2 separate regions of the Homo sapiens genome follow, and region 2 is linked to region 1. The links come from fine-mapping of genetic effects on gene expression. A gene starts in region 1. The other region holds a variant in brackets. All regions are shown on one strand. Distances are between the middles of the regions. Region 1 holds the start of CHAC2 (ChaC glutathione specific gamma-glutamylcyclotransferase 2). Region 2 overlaps ASB3 (ankyrin repeat and SOCS box containing 3).

The links.
Region 2: its variant is fine-mapped to the expression of CHAC2 in whole blood (INTERVAL, PIP 0.97).

Annotation. Positions count from the first base shown.
Region 1 is chr2:53,765,129-53,770,514 of GRCh38, forward strand. It overlaps CHAC2 (ChaC glutathione specific gamma-glutamylcyclotransferase 2), which reads left to right and starts at 2,676. Exons shown (of 3, transcript NM_001008708.4): 1 at 2,676-2,893. The coding sequence starts at 2,759. It overlaps ASB3 (ankyrin repeat and SOCS box containing 3), which reads right to left. Exons shown (of 10, transcript NM_016115.5): 2 at 249-457. The coding sequence starts at 444. It overlaps GPR75-ASB3 (GPR75-ASB3 readthrough), which reads right to left. Exons shown (of 10, transcript NM_001164165.2): 2 at 249-457. RefSeq lists enhancers at 2,648-2,997, 3,018-3,207.
Region 2 is chr2:53,709,668-53,715,053 of GRCh38, forward strand. ASB3 (ankyrin repeat and SOCS box containing 3) reads right to left here. Exons shown (of 10, transcript NM_016115.5): 7 at 4,717-4,914. It overlaps GPR75-ASB3 (GPR75-ASB3 readthrough), which reads right to left. Exons shown (of 10, transcript NM_001164165.2): 7 at 4,717-4,914. Among named protein-coding and RNA genes, the nearest start is that of CHAC2, 55 kb to the right of the region's middle. The variant G/A (reference allele first, on the strand shown) is at 3,105.

The sequences.
Region 1 (5,386 bases):
TCACCTAGCTCAGTCAATAAAAAGAGGCCAGACAGAGGCACTTCCGTATAAGATGTCCAACTAGAGTATCATACTAATTGAATCCAAGGCAGGCAATCTTACTATCCTTAATAAATAAATTCAGGCAGTTATTTTATGACTATAGAAAGGGAAACAAATACTACTGTTAATAAGTTATGTATTATACTTTTTTATGTTTTATTAATCCAGCTTGTAGGCAAAGCCTCCATACCTTGAATTTACTTTACCTGCATTAATTAACATTTGCAAACATTCTACAGAGTTGTGATAAGCTGCTTCATGAATTGGCATCCATCCCCTGTTATCAGCAACATCGACACTTCGGCCCTTTTTGAGCAGTTTCCTTAAGACTTTAACATTGCCTTCCCTGGCAGCAAGTCCAACTGTAGAGCACGTGTCCGCGTAAGCCTCTGTAAAATCCATTTGTTTGACCAGTCTACAAAACAAGGTAGAAGGATAATACTATAGTCAATAAAACAACACTTCACTCCTAGAGGTCAGCAAATCACGGTGGGCCTGTCTAGTATCTCTCACATGACTGACGAAGAAGGGCCCACAATACAGAAAGTGACTGCCATGCCACAGTCTCTGCTGGTGCCTAAAGCAGGAAGTTTCTCTGTTTGGCAGATTGGAATTCCTTGGAAGGTTCCCACTAAAAACATGAAGGGACTTTTAAGTGTTCTATCTTTCCTCCTCTGGAAATGTTTGAGGAGTAGGCTTCTGCTCCTGTTCATACCCCACCACAACGCATTCTTTGGTGCTCCATTGATAAGAGCACCCTCTTTGGTGCTCCATTGATAAGAGCACCTCTGCTTAATCCCCAGTGTACACTACATTATGCAGAGATGGCCATTCAACTACCAGCAATGCTCAGCCTCAATATACAGCCCTCTATAGGAAACAACTAAACCCAAAGAGGCCAGAAAAGCAGTGAAAGATAGGTGTCATTCTAGTCTTCCTGCACCTGCTTGTCCTTTCCAGAAGAGGTTAAACACTCAGATTCTCTATGCTTGACCAAATAGACCCACTGACTGAGCATACTGAAACCAACAGAGAACACCATGAAGAGATGAGCCCGGTTTTCCTACATAGCCCAGAAAGTTCTTAACAGAGTTCTTGCCCACATCATCACCTCCCTCCAATGCTCACTTCAAGTTCCCCTCCAGTCAGAGTCCAGTATAGCTCTCATGTGACTCTCTCGAAGACACAATTTCTTGTTAGTGACTCTATGAAGCAGTTTGGATATGGAATACTTATTTGATTACATAACTATTGTTAATTTTCTCAGATGTGATAATGGCATCACAGTTATTAGGAGAATGCCCTTATTCTTTTTTTTTAGGGAACTTGTTCTAGGATGAATGTCCTTATTCTTATGAGACACATGTAGAGTATGTGGCAGTAAAATGTCATAACACAAGCAACTTCAAATGTTCTCCATTTAAAAGTATAAATAAAGTAAAAAGGAAGTACAGCAACTGTGCAAAATGGTAATTACTGGATCTAGATGAAAGGTATTGGTCATTACACTCTTTTTATCTGAGTTTTCTGTGTATTCAAAATTTTTCAAAAAAGAAGGGTTAGCAACCATATCAGGCAATTTGAAACCACAACTTAGAGAAAATAGGAAAAGACTTGCTTTTTTTTTTGTTTGTTTGTCTGGTAGCAGCTTCCTGCTGATTTCTTTATAAGAAAACAAATAATACCCCTTGAATCTGAGTGTTTTAGCATTCAAGATCATGGTATAAAAATCTTCAAGAAAGAACAATCACTTGGTAAGGTTTCTGTTTTCACACACAGAGACACAGCCATGATAGTCCAAGCGAATTTCCTAAACAATATTTTGCAGCAAGAGCTCTAATGAGCAGATCTTCAAAAAATTTTAGGATCCTTGACCCCTTGGAGAAACTCATGAAAGCTGTAGTTTCCCCCTAGAAAAGTGTACACCCCAAATTTTGTATACAAATTCAGGTTCCCCAGCTCGTTTCCAAAGCCTTTACAGGGGCCCCAAGTTAAGAACATTTGCCTGCTCTTTTGTGAACAAGCCAATGATAATACTAAAGATGAATAAATTTGTGTAAAATTTAAATATATAAACAATTCCCATTGAAATGACAGCTACTCTTTCACAAGCGTAAACTTCTATTGTAAACTTTCTGCTTTTATTTGAAAGGCAAAAGACTTTTTTTTCAGGACATAAAATCAAATATGAATTACATTCCTCTGGCTGCTGTTATATAGGCAAAAATCTAATTTCCAAAGCAGAACAAAACGTGTTTCTAGGTGCTTTGCTACCTGCGGTGCTGGTACACCGCCTCCGTATCTGGACACGAGTGACGACTCCTGCTCTTTTCTCCTTCCTCGGCCCCGTTAGAAATAAGCCCAGTTCCAATTTCAGAGCCAAATAGCTCCAAAAAGCATTGTGGGTATTGTAGTTTTCTGCACACGGGCACTAAAGGTAGGTTAGGGTGATTTACGGATGCTGCAAAAGAATCCATTGCTTACTACACCGAAGGTCAATGCCTCTTGACACCCTAATCAAGGAAATAAAATAAAGCTGACTGAGATCCGCTCGGAAAATCTTTCTGGATCTAAACTCCCAGTGCGCTTTGCGCCCCAAGTGGCCATCGCGCCTGCGCCCCGCGCGGCCGGTTACTCGCTTACCGGAGGCTTCAGTCCCCGGCGGCGCGGCGACAGCTAGGGTTCACGGCCACTGGGGCAGAGGAGCCGCGAGAAGATGTGGGTTTTTGGTTACGGGTCCCTGATCTGGAAGGTGGATTTCCCCTATCAGGACAAGCTGGTCGGATACATCACCAACTACAGCAGGCGCTTCTGGCAGGGCAGCACGGACCACCGCGGGGTCCCCGGCAAGGTGAGGCGCCGGTCAGCTCCCCACACTTACTGCCCCCTGACCCCTGCTCCCCAACTCCACACACAGCACCCACACCCTAGAGAACCACACCTTAGCGCTTCATGGGGCCAAAGCACATGGCTTGGGGTAACATTTCTGTAGATTTTCCCTGCCACCTGCCCGCCATCTCTAACCCAGCCCGGGCACTCCTTCCGAAGCTGCTTAAGATGCCGGTGGTTAGTCTCTAGAGACGGCGAGAAGCGCGGGCACAGGCGCACGAGCTCGCACCAGGCTGAGTGCGGAGATGGGGACTCCATCTCTCTGCAACCTCTGCCAAAAGAAAAAAAGTCCCATTGGCGGGAAGATGAATGCTCATGTCACCACAGAGTTGAAATAGTAAATCAAGTTGCAAATTCAGCTTTTTAGCAATTAAATTTGTTGGCATTTCTGCATTCTAGCCGACTTTCATGAGCTTGCGATTAAACGTGCATGTTACTTCTAGGATTTCTTTACATCTTTCAAAAGTTTTATTTTCTGACACACAGGATTGCAGAATGAGTTTCCAAAATTTTCGCTGGTTATTAAGGAACTCACTTTGGTTTTCAGTACTAGTGAAGTTAAATGAAGTTCTGGTTATATGAATAACATAGTACCAAACTCATTACTATATCCAGCATTATTTTAATGTTACTTTCTTGATGGTTCTCATAATTATAATATGAAATGTAAGTTCATTGATTCACTTTTCAGTCAGTCCTACAAAGACATTAATCTCAATATATGTATAGAGAATTAGCAGCAGCTCACTGCTTATGCAAATCAGCTTTGTACTGGCTACAAAACAACTAATCCATAAAGAAAACTAAGATTGAGGTAACTAATAATTTGGAAATTGGTCAATGGAAAGTGGAAAAGATCAAGGCGCTAAAGTAGTTTGCACCTGCTCATAAGAGAGACATGGGATTAAAATCACGAAAAGAACCTGAATTAGAAACCATTCTATCTCAACTAGAGTTGGTCAGTTAAGAACTTGGCTTTTAAGTAGACTATACTGGCCTATTGGGATGTTGGACACAGTGACCTGAAAAGGGGCAATGGCTTAGGATAAATGCACATTTACAGATCAACAGAAATGTCATGGCCAAAGTATCTCCAAGAATGTTCTAGAACAATATTCAAGACATTAAAGAACTAAGCTAAATTAAATGGCTTCTGAGTTGTCAGTTTTGGCTGGGCCCGGTAGCTCACGCCTCTGATCCCAACACTTCGGAAGTTTGAGCCAGGAGGACTGCTTGAGGCCAGGAGTTTGAGAGTTGTCAGTTTTGATATGAATATTTAAAATTGCCATTCCGAAAAGAAAACCTTTAGCCCAGGCTCCAATTATAATGACCAAGTATTAAATATTTATGTATGTGGCTATAACAACATACTTTACTAGTCTTGACGAAAATGTACAGTGTGTTACAAAACACATTGAGATATGTATGCTGTCAGAATAGACTGATGATTAGAAATTGCCTAGTCAACACAACAGTCCGTGATTCTTTAAAAGGAGAAAGGGGCTGGCCAGGCGTGGTGGTTCCCGCCTATAATCCCAGCACTTTAGGAGGCCTAGGCGGGTGGATCACCTGAGGTCGGGAGTTCAACACCAGCCTGACCAACATGGAGAAACCCCCTGTCTACTAAAAATACAAAATTAGCTGGGCGTGGTGGCGCACGCCAGTAGAGTCCCAGCTACTCTGGAGGCTGAGGCAGGAGAATCGCTTGGGAGGCAGACGTTGCGGTGAGCTGAGATTGCGCCACTGCACTCCAGCCTGAGCAACAAGAGTGAAATTCCGTCTCAAAAAAAAAGAGCTAAAAAAAGGTGTCTTTCTGATCACCTAAGACTCAGAATTCTAACTGCACTTAATACCATACATCTTAGCCCATATCTTAGCTCTATTTATTTCACATGTTAGTTTGCATTCTAGAATGACAATATAAGCTACTGGAACCAAGAATCAAGATTTCATCTTCTCCACAGCACACAGTAGCTATGCATAAATAACTTCTAATTCACTTTGAAATTGAAAATAATATGGCATTATCTACTTGACCCTCACCAATATATATATATCCTCATTGTAGCATCATCTTAAAAAGAAAACAAGTCAGAAATCTAAATGTCCAAGAACACAGGAACGTTTATAGTTCATCAATGACACAATATTATGCAACTATTAAAATGTATGAGAAGACTAACAGGAAAATTAAATGAGAAATCATAATCCAAAATCCCATGTGTTCCATGATTACAAATTATCTATACGAACAGATGAAGACTAAAAGGAAATAGCAACAAAGATGACACAAATGCCTGGATGATTTAGGCTCGCTATGTGCCAGACATTGGGCATACAAGTAGGTAAAATTGTGGCTTATGACTCAGCATTCCCATGAATGATGTTAAGGTATCAGTACACATACAGCCTTTGGTACTCCGTGGACGAAGTTTATTTAAAAAAAAAAAAAAAA
Region 2 (5,386 bases), 55 kb before region 1:
TACATATGTTTGAAAATTTCAAAATTAAAAAACAGCAATTTCAGAGATAATGTGTGAGACAGCTAGCCTCCAAGATGGCCCCCAATCATCCTTTCCTCCTCCTATTTGTGCTTTTGTACAGTCTTTCCATATTGAATCAGGGCTTGTGTATGTGATCTGCGGAGGTGACAGCCATAATTTCAATGAACCAGGTCACTGTGACTTCCGTCTTGTTCTCTCTTAGACCTCTTCCTCTGAGGGAATCAGCTACCATGCCATGAGGATACTGCAGCCGTCCTGTGGGGAGGCTTTTATAGAGAGAAACCGAGGTTTCCTGCCAACACCCAGCCATATGAGTGATCCATGTCAGTGAGCCTCTGTGGAAGTTGATCCCCTGGCTCCTGTCAAGCTTGCTAATGACTGTAGCTTCATCTGATATTTAATGCAACTATAAGAGAAACCTCCAAGCCTGAACTGCCCACCAAGCTACTCCTGAATCTCTAACCAACAGAAACTCCAGAAGCTGCATGGCTGTGCCACGCCAGTCTGCACGCTCCAGCTGCCAGACAGCATGTCTTCCCCTTTGTTAATAATTTCTAATGGTTTACTTTCAAGTTAATTTACTCTTTCCTATATCTTTCATTTGGCTATGGAGTCCATGTAGTAAATTTTTCATTGCAGATTATTGTATTTTTCCGTCTTTTTTATAGTTTCTACTACTCAGCTGAGAATTTCTACCTTTTCATTTTTTCCAGTGTGTTAGCCTCATGAAGCACCATTATAAGAGCTGCTTTCAATTATCTGATATTTCTAATATCTGGACCATCTCAGGACTGGCATCTATTAATTGCTTTTTCCCATGAGATTTAGTAATGTTTTATCAGTTCTTCATATGTCAAATAATTTTAGGTTGTCTCCTGGACATTGTGAATGTTATGCTGTATAAATTCTGAGTCCTGGGTCTTGTTATAATCCTTTGAAGAACACTAGCTTTTTGGTTTGTTTATTTCAGCAAGCATATAACCTAGTTAGGTTCAAACTGCAATTTCTGTTTTACCTTATACAGTGGTTCCAACGTCAGCTCAGTTCTCAAAAGCCTTGACTTTCCTGCTTTAAGCTTGGACCCATGAATGTGCCACTCAGGGTCTAGCCTGAGACTCTGATGATAGTTCAAATCTTACTTTCAACATTTTGGGTTGGCTGGGTGCTGTGGCTCACGCCTGTAATCCCAGCACTTTGAGAGGCCAAGGCAGGGAGATCACCTGAGCTCGGAGTTCAAGACCAGCCTAGGCAACACGGCAAACCCTGTCTCTACAAAAAATACAAAAAAAAAAAATTCCAGGCATGGTGGCGCACAACCGTAGTCCCAGCTACTCAAGAGGCTGAGGCAGGATAATTGCCTGAGCCCAGGGAAGTCGAGGCTGCAGTGAGTCATGATCATATCACTGCACTCTGTGTGGGCAACAGAATGAGATCCTGTCTCAAAAACAAAACAAAATAAAAAACAATTTGGGTCTATCTTGTGCATTTAAAGCTTGGGGTAAGTCAGGAATATGCAAATTCATATGCACAATTAGGGTATCCGCTTCTCCAAGCTCTCTCTTCTCCAAGATTCCCTACCATTCTCTGGCCCACAGGGTTCCATTTACCTGATTCCTCTGACCAGAAAAACAGGCTTTCTATTGTGTCTATGTTTCAGCTTCCTCAGTAAGTTTAACAGGATCTATTTAGTGCTCTCTATATTAAACAACTGGTCAATTAATGTTACTGACTGATATTAGCTGCTGGTGCCACTGGTGCTACTCAGCTCCAGATCAGGGTTGGCCCTCAGGGCAACACAGCAGAAGAAAAAGAAGGCCAGGCGCGGTGACTCATGCCAGCACTTTGGGAGTCCGAGGCAGGCAGATCACTTGAGGTCAGAAGTTTGAGACCACCCTGGCCAACATGGTGAAATCCCATCTCTTTTAAAATACAAAAAGTAGCTGAGCATGGTGGCACATGCCTACAATCCCAGCTACTTGGGTGGCTGAGACAAGAGAATCACTTGAACTCGGGAGATGGAGGTTGCAGTAAGCCCAGATCGCGCCACTGTACTCCAGTCTGGGCAACACAGCGAGACAGTCTCAAAAAAAAAAAGGAAAAAGAAATGGGAAAATTCGTTTTCATGTGGGTCACTTCACCAAGTTACCACTCTCTTTCATAATCTATCTGCTTTTGTTCCTTTGAGAGTCCTCAGGTAGTTTCTTTTTGAATTTTGACCACAGTTTTTTGTAGTCATTAGAGAGAAAGAGAGAGGCTGTAGTGGAATTACTCCACTGCATGTTAAGAACTTCTTAGCATCACTGAAGTTTACACAGAAAAAAATTCTACAGAGTAACTGAGACATAAAAAGCAAACCAAACTGTGGAGTTCCTTAAAAATACAACTTTGGAGTACTTGTGAAAGGAAAAGAAAAAAAATCATTTATATCACTATTCAAGAATGAGATAATAGCTCCTATTTGCAGTTATCCCAGACACAGCAGAAAAAAATAGGAACCTTCCCTTCCATGAGTCTCTATAAAAAAATACAAAAAAAAAAAAATACATTAAAAACGCTTCTTTGCCAAAGACAGCAGAAGATAGTGAAGTAAATGCCACTAAATACTGTTTTTCCCATTAGGTTTTAAATTCCTAAAGGATCGTGTGTATGTTTCAGCTTCCTCAGTAAGTTTAACAGGATCTATTTAGTGCTCTCTACATAACAAAATGGTCAATTAGTGTTACTGACTGATTTTGTAGAAATCAAAGGAGAAAAAAGGGTCTGCCCCCTAAAATTTCAACTAATCTTGGAAAATCCAGAAACCTATTTAAGATCTTTCCCACCTAATTTCATTTATCCGAATCTACAGAAGGCATGAAACATACTGCCCAGCTCCCAAGGAATATCATTAATTTTAAGGTGTTTCAGAGTTAACAGGGGTACTACATTATATGGCTTAATTCAAACTACACTTATAAGGTGATGAGGCGTGAGCTTAGCTGCTGTGACCAGAAGGACCAAAAACATTGTTCATCCAAAAGATAAGATGAAGGCCAAAAAAGACCATCATCATATTGAACACACACACACACACACACACAGGC[G/A]CGCGCGCGCGCGCAATCCAAAATCATTATATTCTGGTCTAATAAGAAATGTTCAGTTCTGTAACGGACTTAAGATTTGGGATAGAGAAAGGCAACTAAAAGTTATCAGTGCAACCTCACTGAAGGTCAACTAAAGTAATTAGGGCTCTTCTGTTTAAAAAGACAAAACTTAACGGGGTACACAAGAAAATCCTATGAAATCATGAAAGTTATACATAAAGTGGGCCCCAGATACTCAGATTAACCAAAACCCAAATATTCAAACTAAAATGTATAAGTTTAAGAGGCCGGATGGGGTGGCTCACACCTATAATCCCATCACTTTTGGAGGCTGGAGGCAGACAGATCACTTGAGGCCAGGAGTTCGAGACCAGGCTGGTGAAACCCTATCTCTACTAAAACGTGTAAGCTTAAACTTGAAACAAATTATAGTGAACTACTAATTTTACATGGCAAATGTTAAGAGATAGTAAAGGCTGAAAAGCTTAGTAAATAATTTCTTGATAACTACTCAAATTAAATAGAGATTCATAATAGTGAATTCAAGAAGGCCAATACAATTTGAGGTATGCCTGCAACCTCTTCTGTGTCATTAAACACAATAGCATCTATCTTCATAACTTATTCCATTATTGGATGACCAGATATTACTCAATATGGCTGTTCTTACACACAGCTTTATTCTTAGTGTTTTAAAACTGTAAGAGTGTTATAGACAAAGTTACTGGCCAGACACTAACAAGGCAGCAGTAATTCTTCACTTAGTCTATTTCACAGAATTATGACAGATTAGAAAAATAATTAATTTGGGGGCGTTTAAAAACTTAATTATTTAGACTCACATCCAAAAATAATATAAAGCCAGGCATCGTGGCTCATGCCTGACATCCCAGCATTTTGGGAGGCCGAGGCAAGGGAACTGCTTGAGCCCAGGAGTTCAAGACCAGCCTGGGCAACATGGAGAAACCCCATCTCTACTAAAAATAAAAACATTAGCTGGGAGTGGTGGTGTACACCTGTAGACCCAGCTACTCTGGAGGCTGAGGTGGGAGGATCACCTGAGCCTGGGATGCAGAAGTTGCAATGAGTCAAGATGGTGCCACTGCACTCCAGCCCGGGCCACAGAGTGAGACCCTGTCTCAAAAAAAAAAAATTTTTTTTAATGCTATCCACCAAATACATTAAAAACACAATAATATCTATAAAACTAAAGTTTAATTTTTAGGCTTATATCTTATAAATTTGAAACGGTAAATGACCTGAAGCAGTCACTGCCTTACTTGATAAAGCCCCATTTTTAATTCTTGAATTGTTTTGAAGACCAAAAATATCAGCAAATTTCTGCGTCTACTTAAATTGTACGTATTCCCTAAGATTGCTACACTAAAAATATAATCCAGATCCAAAGAAGGAAGGAAAACAATGTGATATTATCACCTCATTTCTGCTTCAGCTTGACTGAAACATCATAGTTTTTTTCCTATTTGTGTTCCAAGATAGCAATTTAGCACTAACAGAGATACTAAGTTTCATCGTGAAAGAAAGTCACTTCAAAACACATCTCCATACAGCAAAAAAGAATAAAAAATAAAAACATAGCAAATATACATACTCCTTTTGGAAAGCCATGCACACAGGAGAACTGAATCCAAAAACAAGGCACGCCTGGGCGTCTGGGCTGTAGCCATTCCGGAGTAATATTTCTAGGCAATCTTCATGTCCCCCAAACACTGCTGAGTAAACAGGGCTTACTTTGTTTAGCCCAGTGTCACAGGCCCGGTTAGTAAGTGGTATTAACAAGTCCAAGATTCTATAAATACACAAATTCAGGAGAATTTAGTGTTTGTATATGTGCATAAATGTAGGCAACATTTCTATAGCACAATTTTTTTCAGAATTACCAACTGATTCATTTAAAGAAATATTTCTGTCTAGGGTGTACCTTCTACCAACAACATTAAACTATTACATGCTATATATTTACTCCAGAATGTTACACTTATTATTGCTTAATAAAAAGGTCTTTAAATACATTTGAAACAAAATTAATGTTCCTATATGTAAACAGAAAAGGTGCTCTTTTAATTTTATTACCTTACTAGCACCACCTTAACCCCCAAAATTCAAATTTTATGTTAGATATTTTAGGGTTTAATAAATTATTTAAAACATCATTCTACTAAGTATAAACTGGCATCAAGAAAATGCACTATTTTCCTTCTTAAAGTACCAACTAGTTTTTCTTTTCCAATTAGTAAAAATTTTTAAAGATGATAACTGGC